Homo sapiens: one gene and its partner. The protein of the gene in region 2 purifies or fractionates together with the protein of the main gene of each other region. This does not show direct contact. Each region holds a gene or a part of one and is shown on either strand. Other genes may lie near its edges.

Evidence for each region.
Region 1: the proteins of BBS4 (region 2) and BBS7 purify together in Homo sapiens (co-immunoprecipitation; 8 studies listed by BioGRID and IntAct, with this or other methods). This does not show direct contact.

The regions. Positions count from the first base shown.
Region 1 is NC_000004.12:121,867,248-121,875,882, forward strand, and holds the start of BBS7 (BBSome complex member BBS7), read right to left. Parts: upstream 3,228-8,635; 5' UTR 3,067-3,227; coding exon 3,031-3,066; intron 800-3,030; coding exon 734-799; intron 1-733.
Region 2 is NC_000015.10:72,688,616-72,696,370, reverse strand, and holds part of BBS4 (BBSome complex member BBS4), read right to left. Parts: intron 1,195-7,755; coding exon 1,143-1,194; intron 1-1,142.

The DNA.
Region 1 (8,635 bases), on a different chromosome or scaffold from region 2:
CTAATTTCAGTATATTAATTTTGTATCCTGCAACTTTACTGAATTCATTTGTCAGTTCTAAGAGTTTTTTGGTAGAGTCTTTAGGTTTTTCTATATATAGGATCATGTCATCGGCAAACAGAGATAATTTGACTCTCCTTTCCAATCTGGATGCACTTTATTTCTTTTTCTTGTATAATTGCTCTGGCTAGGACTTCTAGTACTATGTGTAATTGTTGATTCATCTTGCTAAAATGTTTATATATCAGGATAAAGTATTTTTTTGCAGCTATTAAAATATTTGGCTAGTCTACTAAGAAACTATAATTGTTTTGTGGAAATCATAGGATCAACATTTCTTTAAACATAATCAATATTGTTAGTTAAGTACAGTTTAACATCAAAATATTTAATGACTTTAAAATATGAGAAAGTTTAAAGAGAACATTTTCTTGATACCTTATTCTGCTTTATATTTCTTTTTTCATATACACATCTGACACACAGAAAAAATGGAGTATGGTTTTTAAGTTTGCCTACACTGTTTACTAATGGTATATAATAATTTTAATGTCCAAGAAAATTATTGTCTATAAATGTCCCTTGGTATTCCAGTTTCTGTTCAAATTAAAAAATTCATTTCCATTTTAACATTAGCATTTTTAAGAGAATAACTTAATAATAAAGAAGGAAATAGGAGCCTCTCCTCTGTCACTGCTAGGGAATAGTGGAGAAATCAGAATCTATACAGTACCTTTTGTGTAGCTCTGTGTCTTGAGGCAGGAATTAGCTTCATAGTCTTCTGAGATGTTACTCCCACCTAAAGAAAAACACCAGATGCCTAGTGAATTTAATTTGAAGTTATTACAGAGATTAAAATAAGTTATAGTGAACCTTTTTGTTAAACTGAAATTAGTGATATAACTATTATCAGTAATTAATTTATTTTCTAATGAGATATGTCATATTAGTCAGAATACATATAGGAAACAACCAAAATAGTAAAATTTATCCTATAAAGTTGTCAAGCCAAAAATAGTTGTGTAAGATGACTGGCAAGATGCTTTACTAAAAAATATCTCTAGAAGCCTTCTTTTCCAACTGCATACAGTTGTTCAGCAAAGTGATTCAAGAACTTTGAAAATAGATTATAGTTATTAAAAATGCAACGGAAGACCACATGCAGTGGCTCATGCCTGTAATCTCAGCACTTTGGGAGGCTGAAGTGGGAGGATCACTTGAGCCCAGGTGTTCAACACCATCTAGGCAACACAGGGAGACTCTGTCTCTACAAAAAATAAAAAATTAGCTAGGCATGGTGGTGCATGCCTGCAGGCCCAACTACTTGGAAGGCTGAGGCAGGAGGATAACTTGAGTCCAGGAATTTGAGGCTGTGGTGAGTCATGATCATGCCACTGTACTCCAGACTGGCTGCGTGACAGAACAAGACCCTGTTTCAAAAAAAAAAAAAAAAAAAAAAAAAAAAAAAAGAAGATTTATGCTAAAATACCAAATATGATAATGGCCATAACATCCAATCTAACAGGTGAAGATTATTTTACAAAAAAATACAGAGGATGAAAGCAGCAGGGAACTGTCACTGCTGGTGTATAGTTAGGAGAAGAGGATGGGACCAATGGGAGAGGAATTGGTGAAAACAACACATCATGATAAAACGTTCATATAGTATAAATGACTTTATTCTGCATTCCAGAAAATTGTATTAAAGTCATCTGCTTAGATTTGTATTTCTGAAACATCAATCTAGCAAGTGATGTGAAGGATGGCTTGGAGGGAGATGAAGCTGGAGTTCAGGAGCCCAATTTGGAGGTTATTTCAATTATTCAAGCAAGAGAAGATGAGAACCCAAATGAGGGTAATAGAGATGGAAGATATGGGACAGATTCAAGAGATATTTGGGAGTTAAAAGCAGTAAGATGTGGTGACCAGTTGGATATGGAAGTACATAGCATAAACCCCTAGAAAATTGACTGGGCAAACATTTGTACCATTAACTAAAATGAGGTGGCCTAAAAATATGATGAGGAATTGGGGTAGAGAGAATTTTAGGTCTGAAAGAAATTCTGAAAGGCAGTGTAGTGTAACAAAAATACACCAGTTCTGGAGTCCGAGACTTTGATTCAAATAGCCACTCCCTAATTTTTAGCTATTAAGCAAATTACTTGCCTTCTCTAACCCCTTAGATCCTCATTTATAATATTGTCTACTTTGCAAATTCTTATGAGGATTAAATATGTTGGTAGGTATGCTAAATTCTTAGAATAAGCTAGATGCACATTAAACTGTTGTCATTGCTTTTTTTCCCCCTTTCGAGACAGTCTCGCTCTGTCGCCCCAGCTGGAGTGCAGTGGCATGATGTCAGCTCACTGCAGCCTCCGCCTCCCGAGTTCAAGCGATTCTCCTGCCTTAACCTCCCGAGTACCTGGGATTACAGGCGCCCGCCACCACACCGGGCTAATTTTTGTACTTTTTGTAGAGAAGAGGTTTAACCATGTAGGCTAGGCTGGTCTCGAACTGCTGACCTTAGGTGATCCGCCCGCCTCGGCCTCCCAAAGTGCTGGGATAACAGGCGTGAGCCACTGCCCCCGGCCCGGTTTTCATTGCTTTTACCATGATCTGCCTGGTGCGGTACAGCTCACAGTAAGAAACAAGTGCCTGGTGCTCCGCAAAAGGGTCCGGGTAGAGATGGAGATTGAGGATTAGAGGCCCTCAGGCAGCCACGGCTAGGGAGGAGGAGAAGGGCCCTGGGGGGAATCCGGGATGAGACAGTGTCACATTTTCAGAGCATCCTCAGGACCCGGCAGAAGCCAGTACCGTGGGGGCTTGTGCCGCTTTTCCCCGGTCCCCTCGGACCGTCACAGACGAAAGGGAGCTGCCCAAAGGCGGGGTGCTGAGAGGTCGGCACCCAGCCCGGCTCCTTCGCCTCCGCACCAGCTCCTGGCGACCGAGACTTTCGTCAGTGGAAGGAAGGAATCCTCTCCGGGTGCTGGGCTTGCCCAGCGCGGCGCCCGCCCTATCCCTTGGGTTTACCTGCAGATAATCCATTCGGTTTAAAATCAGATCCATGATGACTACGCGGAGGGGCTAAGCAGCGCCGGACAAGAACAGGAGGGACAGAGGCTTCGGGCCCGCAGGCCTCCGACCCAGTCAGAAGGCTGCCCGCGCCCCTCAAAAGCCAGCCCCAGCTACCGCGCCTAGGTCCTGGGCTGCACAGGCGGGGCGACAGGGCAGTGGCGTCCTGCGTGACGTCAGTACGCTGCTGCGAGGGGCTCCTGGAAGAAGATGAAGGCCCGCCCCTTTCCCGAAGCACCGCCCACTGACAGCGTGTTCCAATCAGAGGCGGAGAGGAACAAAAGAGGCGAGGTCCGGGAGACCCATACAGGGCGGTTTCCACAGAGACCCCAGACGCAGTCTTGGCTCCACCCTCACCGCGGCCCAGGGCTAATACTGGACTTCTTTCCTTATCGCTGTAGAAAAAACTAGATAAGCCTGCTAGATTCTGACCGATTTCACTCTGACATTGGAAAGGGTCCTACAAAGAATTAGGTTCCACCGTTATAGGTGCTAGCTTACAGCAGCGGTTCTTAGACTTTTGGCCTTAGGACTTATTTACAAGACTCTTAAAAACCGTTGAGGAGCACAAAGACCATTTGCTTTTTGTGGGTTTTCTCTCATTTTTAATGTTTTTTTTATTTCAATAGTTTTGGGTGTACAGGCGGGTTTTGGTTACATGGATGAGCTCTTGAGTGGCGAATTCCGAGATTTTAGTGTACCCGTCACCCACCAGTGTACACTGTACCCAATATGTAGTATTTTATCCCTCACCCCGCTCCCAATCTCCTCCCTACCTGGAGTTCCCAGAATCCATTATATCGCTCTGTATGTCTTTGCATCCTCATAACTGAACATGCAGTATTTGGTTTTCTATTCCTAAGTTACTTCACTTAGAATAATGGCCTCCAGTTCCATCCAAGTTGCTGCCAAAAGATATTATTTCGTTCCTTTTTATGGCTGAGTAGTATTCAATGGTGTATATATACTACATTTTCTTTATCCACTCGTTAGTCAATGGGCACTTAGGTTGGCCCCATATCTTTGCAATTGCGACTTATGCTGCTATAAACATGCGTGTATATGTGTCTTTTTCCTTTGGGTAGATACCCAGTAGTGGGATTGCTGGATTGAATGGTAGCTCCACCTTTATTTATTTATTTAAGGAAACTTTATACTGTTTTCCATAGTGGTGGTATTAATTTACATCCCCCAAGCAGTGCAAAAGTGTTCCCTTTTCACCATATCGACACCAACGTATATTTTCTAAATTTTATTTTTTATGTTTATTTTTTTTTTTTTGAGACAGAGTCTTGCTCTTGTCCCCCAGTCTGGAGTGCAATGGCACTATCTCGGCTCACTGCAACCTCCGGCTCCCGGGTTCAAGTGATTCTCCTGCCTCAGCCTCCCGAGTAGCTGGGATTACAGGTGCCCGCCACCACGCCTGGCTGATTTTTGTATTTTTAGTAGAAACAGGGTTTTGCCATGTTGGCCAGGCTGGTCTCGAACTCCTGACCTCGTGATCCGCCTGCCTCATGGCCATTATTGCAGGAGTAAGGTGGTATCTCACTGTGGTTTTAATTTGCATTTCCCTGGTGATTTAGTGATGTTGAGCATCTTTTCATGTTTGTTGGCTATTTGTATATCTTCTTTTGAAAAATGTCCTTTGCCCACTTTTTGATGGGATTGTTTTTTTCTAGCTGATTTGTTTGAGTTCCTTGTAGATTCTAGGTACAAGTCCTTTATCAGATGCACAGTTTGAAAATATTTTCTTTTACTCTATGGGCTGTTTACTGATTATTTCTTTTGCTGTGCAGAAGCTTTTTAGTTTATTTAGGTCCCATTTATTTATTTTTGTTTTTGTTGCATTTGGCTAATGTCCAAAAGAGTTTTTCCAATGTTATCTTCTAAAATTTTTGTGGTTTCAGGTCTTAGATTTAAGTCTTTGATTCATCTTGAGTTGATTTTTGTATAAGGTGAGAGATGGGAATCCAGTTTCATTCTTCTACCTGTGGCTAAACTAGTTTTCCCAGCACCATTTATTGAATAGGGCGCCCTTTTCCCAATTTATGTTTTTGTATGCTTTGTTGAAGATCAGTTGACTGTAAGTACTTGGCTTTATTTCTGGGTTCTCTATTCTGTTCCATTGGTCTATGTGTCTTTATTTATTTATTTATTTATTTTACCTGTACCATGCTGTTTTGGTAACTTGCCTTGCAGTATAATTTGAAGTGTGGTAACGTGATGCCTCCAGATTTGTTCTTTTTGCTTATTATTGCTTTGGCTATTCAGGCTGTCTTTTGGTTCCATATGAATTTTAGAATTTTTTTTTTAGTTCTGTGAAAAGTAGTAATGATATTTTGATGGGAATTGCACTGAATCTGTAGATTGCTTTGGAAAGTATAAAGACCATTTGTTTATATGAGTTACCTATTGATTTTTACCATATTAGACATTAGAACTGAAAACAATTAGTGTTTTTTAAAAACCTATGACAAATATCTTAATGAAAAAAATATTTTCCAAAATAAAAAAATAAAATAACTGGTACTGTGCGCAAATCTATTTTCTGTCCATTTTAATAGTAGACAGGAGGAGCTTCAAATCTGCTACTGCATTCAATCTATTGTTATATGTTGTTTTTGTTCATGTATATGAAGAAAATTTGGTCCAAACTCAACAAGTAGTAGTTTTTTGAAAGGTTAGTTGCAATGTGAAATGTGACTTTGTTACACAACATCAAAAAATTCCATCTGTTAGTATCACCATGGATCTCATCAGTAAAGTCCCGAGTATGGGAGATCTGTCAAACTTAGATGGTGAATACATATTTTCCAAAATTCAAATTTGTGCTTGAAAGTTTGAAATTTACACATTGGCAAGAAATGTCGATTGTTTTCCTTGAACTGATAGGTTCCCTTCTTGAATTCACAAGAAAGTAAATGCCAGATATCTAAGTCTGAATAATCATAATTTGTGAGTAATTCCTTCAAATAAAAAGTGTCCCATGAAAAAAGCAGGAAGTTCAGCTAGCAGCTCAATCCCACAAGTGCTTTTCCTTGAGACAACTAATGTATTTCAGTATTCAGTAGAAGGATTTTATACATACTTCTTATGTCCTCACATAGAACATTTAAAAAGACATATTCAAGAGTTAAGATGTAATAAATGAGGGCTGAATCAGAAGAAAGAAAAAAGAAAAAAAGATAATATTAACAATGTTGCTGCTTCGTTAAGAACATTTTTATATGAAATGGTTTTTGTTTCCTATCAGTGCATGTTATATAGAATATGGTGTCTACTAGTACAGTTTGGAGCCACTATTTTGATTTATGCTTAAGCACTAGCAGTATTAACCACCATTGTTTCGGTACCATCAGTGCAAATGTCAGCAGAGTGAAATGGCAAATCACAACTTAGTGTTATGAAAATAGTTTCAAAATTGCAGACAGCTGTGAAAAGGCCTCAGGAACCACCCCTGCCCCTCGGGGCCCCACAGACTACTACTGACCCATAGTGACCCAGGATTTAAGAGCTGACATTCTTTGACTCACTTTCATCGGTCCTTCCTTAATGTGCATAGAGCTCTGCCTGGGGAAATACAGATAAGTTCAGATACAGCTACTTTCCTGATTCTTGTGGTTTTTCTTTTTCTTTCTTTCTTTTTTTTTTTTTTTGTAGAGATGGAGTTTTGCCATGTTGCCCAGGCTGGTATTGAACTCCTGGGCTCGAGTGGTCCGCCCACCTCAGCCTCCCAAAGTTCTGGGATTACAGACATGAGCCACTGTGGTTTTCCAGGAAAGAGTTCACAAATAATTGTGAAACAAAAAGAATTAAATCCCTGAGAAGAGGTGCTTCTTAAGAAGAGAAGTTATTTACTGCAGCAATATCTGAAAAAGTTTTCCCTGTGTTCCAGACAATTATATCTCTGAGGCTAAAATAATCCCACATTAAAATAGACAATACATGTAGATGGGTTAGCTGTTCAGCAATTTGGGGGAAATATATATCAATTTAGATTCAAGAAAAAAATACAAATAAATTTTAGAAGTCAACTGAAAAATAAAGCCATAGAAAAGACAGAAGAAAATAGAATTGTATAGCATTTTACAGAATTTTGGAGGTTGGAGGATATAGTATTAGTTTGCTAGGGCTGCCATAGCAAAGTAGTACACACTGGGAGGCTTTTCAACAACAGAAATTTATTTTCTCACAGTCTTGGAGTCTAGAAGTCATAGATCAAGGTGTCAGCAGGGAATAAAACCGATCTTCAGAGGCCTCTCTTCTTGGCTTATAGATCGTCATCTTCTCCGTGTCTTCACGTGGTCCTCCCTCTATGTCTGTCTGTGTCTCATCTTGTCTTTTTATAAGCACACCAGTCATATTATCTCATTTTAAATTAATTACCTCTTTAAAGACCCTATCTCCAACTATAGTTATAGTCTGAGATACTGAAGGCGAGGACTTTAACATGAGTTTTGAGGGGACACAATTCAGCCCATAACAGAAGGAAACTGATCTCAAAAGGAATAGAAGAAACCACAAAGGAAAAAAGCAGATATGGTGTTACATGCCTGTAGTCTCAGCTATTTGAAGGCTGAGGCTCAAGATTGCTTGAGCCCAACAATCCAGCCTGGGCAAAATAGCAAGGCCCCATCTCTAAAAAACAAACAAAAAACTAACTTAAAAAAAATGAAAAGTAAAGATAAACATTTCAATATGTCACAACAATGTTTAAATGAAAACAAAAATATAGGAGAAAAGAGTTAATATCTTAAAAAATAGTTCATACAAATTAATAATGAAGAAATACTATGGTTCTAATAAATAGGTAAAAAAAAAAACACCAAAGACAGACAATGCTGGCAGTGCTTACTTTCCATTTAGCAAGTGATGTCCACTGTTCAATTAATTGTGTAGAAGGAAAGTAAAAGTTTATTTTGAAGCTCAAATTTATTTTAAAACAGTGAAATGAGGCTATGATATAGCATCAAAACAATACAAAAAGTTTGCATAATATGATATTTGGAATTCTTTGATTTTGCATCTAAAAATGCAATTTATTATTTTTAAAGTACATACTATGTTTTGTTTCTAAATGATTAGTAAAGATTTCAACCTACTAATTTTAAGTATTCCTCAAATAATTAATTAGCAGGGTAAGGAATTTTTATTCACAATAAAGAAAATGTCAAGTTAAATTACCACTGTGTGTCCTCTTTTTAAAGATGTTTTAGGGTATCAGAGACATCTTGGTGGTCTTTATAAAACTCAACAGAAGATGGCTGCCTCTCAGATGTGACAAAGACCACTTTAGAGACAAATTTGCAGAATTACCATGCACCTCAGTAATTTATAACCTTATGTTATGGTGCTAAAGCAACCATTATGAGTATAAGTTAAACAACTTATGGCTAAAAATAAAAGCAATTTAAACTGCATTAAAGTTAAAACCATCAACACGCTAGTGGTGGTCAGCTGAGTGACTGAGTCATGAGTAAAAACATTAGTTTCCCCTAACACATGGTATAAATTTAGAAATTCTCAAACTCTTTTTTAAACTGAACAAAGTTATAAATACCCA
Region 2 (7,755 bases):
ACGAAAATTATATGTTGATACCATTCAAAGACTGGCCAAAGCAAAACTAAAATAGCTAAATAAATAACTAAAACTAAAATATTATCAGGCAAAGTAGACTTCAAACAAGGAATATTATCAGAAATTGAAGAGGAATATTATATAAAGACAAACGGGTCAATTTACCAAGAAATCAGACAATCCTAAATGTATATGCATCCAACAACAGATCTTCAAAATACACAAATCAAAAATTGATAGAACTGAAAGTAGAAACAAATCCACAATTACATTTGCACACTTCAACACTCTTCTATCACCCTTCCAATCAGTAACTACATCAGTAAGAATATGAATATCTGTAATTGTAAGTATATACAGAACACTATCAACCAACTTGACCTAATTGACATTTACAGAATGCTACATCCTACAAGAGCAGAATACACATTATTTCCAAGTGTACATGGGACATGCACCAACACAGGCCACATTGTGGGCCATAAAACAAACCATATAAAGAATGTTCTCTACCCACAATAGAATTAAACTAGAAACCAACAAAGCAAAAAGATACCTGGAACTTCACAAAGTGGTTTTTCCAGAAGCAGAAAATTAGTACACACTTACATAATAATCAAACCCCATTTAAATAATTTCCAGGTCAAACCAACCTCCTAATATCTAATAACTCTATTAAATAAAAGCTAGATGTGACAGAACATTTAGACTATTACTTCTTTTCCCAACACTCATTTTGAAATAATATAGAATAGATAAAAGAATCAACAAGAGAGAGAAATCTGGCCAGGCGTGGCGGCTCACGCCTGTAATCCCAACACTTTGGGAGGCCAAGGTGGGCAGATCACCTGAGGTCAGGAGTTCGAGACCAGCCTGGCAAACACAGTGAAACCTCATCTCTACTAAAACACAAAAGTTAGCCAGGTGTGGTGGCGTGCACCTGTAATCCCAGCTACTCGGGAGGCTGAGGCAGGAGAATTGCTTGAGCCCCAGAGGCAAAGGTTGCAGTGAGCCAAGATTGTGCTACTGCACTCCAGCCTGGGTGACAGTGAGACTCTGCCTCCAAAAAAAAAAATAAATAAATAAATAAAAGAGAAATCTGTCTGTGCAAACATACACATACCATGAAACTGCATACAGACCTTTTTTCTGCCGGGGTTTTTGAGACTCAGTAGATACAGGAAATTGAGTTCTCTGAAATGAAATAAGTAGTCTATATTGAAGCACCACAATATAAACTTGCTAACTTAAAGAAGCATCCAAATAACAAGAATAATCAGTAGCTCACCAATTATGCAATTAATCCATTAAATCCATATTGTGATAGAGTTACTTTAAATATGGTTTAAAAAACAAATGTCAAGTCATACTTTTGCTATCCAAACTATTAACAATGTATAACACATATTTATAATATTTACAATGTGCATTTTTAATGTATAATTATAGTATATAGTAAAATGTGCATAAGAAATATACTCAGTTCTTAAACACCTCATATGAGTATTATACTTGATGCCATACTTCTCAGCAGCCAAACCAAAAAAGTGATCGCTGTTTGATAAAAGGAAGCTTATGAGATCATCTACACAGAAACTGTCTAGCACTCAATTCTAAAAGGGAGATAGTTATTTTCCACTATAACCTCATAGAAAACCATCAAATGAATTTTTCTTTTCTCAACTTCCTATGACATACCACAATATAAGCAAAAATAATGGCTCAAATTTTTCCAGATGTAATGAGAAACACCAATCCTTAGTTTCTGGATACTCAACAAATCCTGACCAGGTTAAATGAAAATAAATACATACTTAGATACATCATAGCGAACTGCACCAGAGACAAGAAGCAGCTCTTAAAAGCAGCCAAACAAGAAAACATATCACCAGATTACCAACAAAGAAAGGACAGTTATTTGAGAGGCCAAGGCGAGAGGATCACTTGAGGTCAGGAGTTCAAGACCAGCCTGGACAACATGGTGAAACCCCGTCTCTACTAAATATACAAAAATTAGCTCGGCATGGTGGCACGTGCCTATAGTCCCAGCTACTTGGGAGGCTGAGGCAGGAGAATGGCTTGAACTTGGGAAGCAGAGGTTGCAATGAGCCAAGATCGTACCATCGCCCCCCGGCCTGGGCAACAGAGCAAGACTACGTCTCAAAAAAAAAAAAAAAGGAAAGAAAGGCCAGACGCCGTGCCTCATGCCTGTAATTGCAGCACTTTGGGAGGCCAAGGCAGGTGGATCACCTGAGGTTAGGAGTTCAACACCAGCCTGGCCAACATGGTGAAGCCCCATCTCTACTAAAAATACAAAAATTAGCTGGGTGTGGTGGCAGGCACCTGTAATCCCAGCTACTTGGGAGGCTGAGGCAGGAAAATCGCTTGAACCCAGAAGGCAGAGGTTGCAGTGGGCCAAGATCACACCACTGCACTCCAGCTTGGGCGATAAGAGCAAAACTCCATTTCAAAAAAAAAAGAAGAAGAAAAAGAAAAACAAAAAAGACTGACAGCTGGCTCTTCAACAATTAAAAATGGAAGACAATATCACAATAAGACATCATAAGAATAATTACTCCAGTGTCAGGTACTAAGTAAAATGAATGTTAATTTAGACCAGAGGTCAGCAAACTATGGCCCACAGGTCAAATCCATCCTGTTTATTTGGTCTACAAGCTACGAATGATTTTTACATTTTTATATGGTTAAAAAAATTCAAAAAATAATAATTTTTAACACATGAAAATTGAGTCAAATTTCAGTGTCTATAAACAAAATTTGTGAGAACATACCCACACTCATGTTTACATAATGTCTATGGTTGCTTTTGTCCTACAACAGCATTGCTGAGTAGTTGTCAGAGAGACTCTATGGCCCACAAAGCCCACAATATTTACTATCTGGCCCTTTACAAAAAAAGGTTTGCTAACACCTGATCTAGATTCTCTCACCCATCAAAACTAATTTTCAACAACAAAGGCAAATTTTTAAAACTTTCAGAATTTGAGAGTTTTTAGATTCTCACCAAATAAACTTTTAATGAAAATATATTAGGAAAAAGAAAAATAATCCCAGAACAAAGGAGTGGAATAAGCAAAGGAATTGGTAAAATAAGCAAGTATTCTAAGCATCTACTGACTGAATAAAACAAACAAAAAGCATAATTTGTGGTGTTTAATTAAAATACATTAAGAACTACAAAACTAAACAACAATGGCATACATTTGCAGATGGCAATAGATGGTAGTAAAGCATTTGATGGTCCCTGTAGTAGCAACATTTAGGCCTGGACTTACAGTAAACATGTATTTTTTAATTTCTTTGGTACTCATTAAAGGAAGGCAAAGTATAACTTCCAAGGCATGAAATAAGAGGAGCAGAAAGGGAGGGGTAACAGATGGAAATTCAGTTTTTTTAAAAAAAAGAAAGGAGGTAGAAAAAAATGCAATTCTCCAGTTTAAGACAGATAGATCAGCCAGGTGTGGTGGCTCACACCTATAATCCCAGCACTTTGGGAGGCTGAGGCAGGAGGATCACACGAGCCTAGAAATTTGAGAACAGCTTGGGCAAAACAGCGAGACTCTGCCTCTATAAAAAAAACTTTAGAAATTAGCCAGGCATAGTGGCAGGTGCCCTTAGTCCTAGCTACTCAGAAGGCTGAGGTGGGAGGATCTCTTAAGCCCAGGAAGCGGAGTTGCAGCAAGCCATGATTGGACCACTGCACTCCAGCCTGAGGAACAGGCTCAAAACAAACAAACAGCCAGGTGTGGTGGCTCACACCTCTAATCCCAGCACTTCGGTAGGCTGAGGCAGGCCGATTGCTTGAGTTCAGGAGTTTAAGACCAGCCTGGGTAACATGACGAAACCCCGCCTCTACAGAATATACAAAAATTAGCCAAGTGTGGCCTGCGCCTGTGGTCTCAGCTACTCGGGAGGCTGAGGTGGAAGGATCACTTGAGCCCAGGAGGCAGAGGTTGCAGTGAGCCAAGATCACGCCACTGCACTCCAGCCTGGGTGACAGAGCAAGACTCTGTCTCAAAAAAAAAAAAAAAAAAAAAAAAAAAAATTGCAATGTAAATTATCACATTAAGACATAATTTCATATCCACCATGACTGGTGGCAGAAGCATAAATTGTTACAACCACCATATAGTTTCCTGTAAGTAATAAAGTTACTCCATTACCTAGCAATCTATTTCTAGGTATACCTTAGAGAAACTCTTAGATATTGCATCAGAAGACCTACATAATAATGCTCAGGGCTAGGACTAAAGTGAGGCATGTGAAGAACCTAGGGTATAAACCTTAAGAAGGTACTTACTCTTACTCCATAAAATGTGAACCCTAAGCACCTCACTTACCTTTCCTTAGTCTTGGCCATATTTATAGCAGCTTTTTTTTTTTTTTTTTTTGAGACGAAGTCTCGCTCTGCCAAGCTGAAGTGCAGTGGCACAATCTCGGCTCACTGCAACCTCCGCCTCCTGGGTTCAAGTGATTCTCCCGCCTCAGCCTCCCGAGTAGCAGGGACTACAGGCGCGCAGCACCGCATCCTGCTAATTTTTGTATTTTTAGTAGAGACGGAGTTGCACCATGTTGGCCAGGATGATCTCGATCTCTTGACCTCATGATCCGCAGCCTCGGCCTCCCAAAGTGCTAGGATTACAGGCGTAAGCCACTGCACCCAGCAGCAGCATTGTTTTTAATAACTAAAAACCAGAAATAATCCCGATCTCCATCTAGTGGAATGGATAAGTTAATTGACATACTTTACTACAATAAGATACTATACAGTGTTGAAATAATGAATAAACTGAAGGTTAATAACAAATTTTAAAAACTAATATATTAAGGATATATATAAACATATATGGTAAAACTATAAAAAGTACAAAATATTAATATAAAATTGAAGAAACACTACATCTGATGTGGAGGAAGGAAAATGCAGTAGGAGAGAGGCATTTAGGAGGTTTCAAAGTTATTAATAACCCATTTCCTAACCTGGGCAGTAGGAACACAAGTTTCCATTATATTATCCTTTAAAGCACACATACGACATTTTAAGCACTCTTTTACAGGTAGGATATATTTCACAACAACAAAAATTAATCCTCAAAATAAAAGAGAATACTTATGTGAGGCAGGCCAATTGCTTGAGTTCAGGAGTTTAAGACCAGCCTGGGCAACATGGCAAAACCCCGCCTCTACAAAATATACAAAAATTAGCCAAGCGTGGCCTGCACCTGTGGTCCCAGCTACTCGGGAGGTTGAGGTGGAAGGATCACTTGAGCCCAAATGAGGGGCTCATTTGGTTAATGATCTTGATTTAAAAATTCACAAAAATTTATAAAGACATTTCACCAAAGAGATACGGGTGGAAAATAAACATATAAAAAATCTTCAATATCATTATTCATGAAGGAAATACAAATTAAAACCACCATACACCATCACTACCCATCCACTACAACAGCTAAATAAAAACAAACTGACAAACCAAGTGTTGACAGGGATGTGGAAAAATCACAACCCTCATGCATTGCTCATGGAAATGTTAACTCGTATATAGCCTGCAGAAGTTAGGCAGATTTGTTTCTGTTTTTTTAAACAAATACTTAAACAATATAACCCAGCAATTCCATTGACACAGGAACCCTTCTGGAGTGATGGACATGTTTTAAAAGCAGCCTCTGATGACAGCTGTGCAACTATATAAATTTACTAAAACTGATCAAACTTTGTACTTAAATTGAGTAAATTTTATGGTACGTGTATTATACCTCAACAAAACTGTTTTTTAAATGTTAACTCAATTTTTTAAAATCTAACTAGAATTTCTTAACTTTGGGGAATATACTACTAAAGAATGTTAAAGACTCAAAAAGCACCTTCAAAGGTCAGCAACCCTTCTTTCTGCACAAAGCAGAATTATTTTTTTGATGAGTCTTTTACTCAAGACTTTCCAGAACATTTTGAGATGGAAAGGATTCTATTAGCCCACTCAATCTCATTCATAGGATTTATATAGAACAAATTATTTTATTCTGTTATTTCTTCATTTTTATATAGTTTTATGATCATTTATTCATCCAACAAATATTCATGGAGCACCTGATACATAGGCACTATATCTGAGCCAGATCAACTAGTGTACTAATTTCTGTTTTCTGCTCTTATCAGTTTAATCCTTCAATTTACAGGATGACATATTTATCCAAATACATCAAATAATGGGAATCAGGGCATTATAAAAAAAATTTATAGGCTGGGTACAGTGGCTCGCCTGTAATCCCAGCACTTTGGGAGGCTGAGTCGGGCGGATCACAAGGTCAGGAGATTGAAACCATCCTGGCTAACACGGTGAAACCCCGTCTCTACTAAAAATACAAAAAATTAGCTGGGCGTGGTGGCAGGCGCCTGTAGTCCCAGCTACTCCGGAGGCTCAGGCTGGAGAATGGCGTGAACCCGGGAGGCGGAGGTTGCAGTGAGCCGAGATCGCGCCACTGCGCTCCAGCCTGGGCGACAGAGCAAGACTCCGTCTCAAAATAAATAAATAAATAAATAAATAAATAAATAAATAAATAAATAAAAAGATTTATAAGCACAAATCATGAAAGCCAGAGTTAGTTGCTCATTCATTTTTTGTTTTTTTCAGACAAAGTCTCACTCTGCCCCTGCTGGAGTCCAGTGGCATGATCATGGCTCACTGGAGCCTCAACTTCCCCCAGGCTCAGATGATCCTCCCCAGTAGCTGGGAAGACAGGCGCGTGCCACCACGTCTGGCTAATTTTTGTGTTTTTTGTAGAAATGGGGCTCCAACATGTTGCCCAGACTGGTCTCAAACCTCTGGACTCAAGTTATCCTCTCACCTCAGTTTCCACAAGTCCTGGCATTACAGGCATGAGCCACCAAGTACAGCCTGTTTGCTCATTTTTTAAGAATTCTAAACTATACTGAAAATACAAATATTAGTCCTCAGTTTTCCTTCTAAGGAACTGGTAGCAATCCGTAAGTAATTTTGGTAGCATACTAGAATTTCTGCGTCCCACACTGGGCTAGTTTTACTCAGTTTTGATGGGGTGTCTTCTGGCCTCAAGGCCTTGACTGTAGCCTTCTTAGATTTTTAGCTATACATTTCTTCAAAAATTCTGTGAGTTTTGAGTCTTTTCCTTTTCTCTCCTCCATATCCATATATCCTTATCTACGGATCTATATGTTTTCCTTTGTGTTATGAAATTAAGATCACATAATATACCCCACTTCACATCTACCTTTTATTTAAATGTACACCATGGAAGTCCCTCCAAGTCAATTAGTCGTAACATTCTCTTTTTTTTTTTTTCTTTCTGAGTTTAGGAATGGAGGTTTAATAGGCAGAAGAAAGAAAGGAGAACAGCTTTCTCTAGTGAGAGAGAGGGGCTTCTGAGAGGAAAAGCAATTAGTTGTAACATTCTTTTTAATGACTGCATAATATTCCACAGTATGGAAATATCTGAAGTCATCAATTACCCTATTAATGGGCATTTAATTTGCTTCCAGCGTTTTGCCACTACGGATAGTACTACAACGAATGCCCTAGTACTACACGCTCATGTTTAACACTTTTTTCTGTGGGACACAGGTCTAGGAGTAGGATTACTGGGTTCTTTTAATTGTATTAAAAAATAAGGCAGGGGGCCATGGCTCACGCCTGTAATCCCAACACTTTGGGAGACCGAGGCGTGCAGATCACAAGGTCAGGAGTTCAAGACCAGC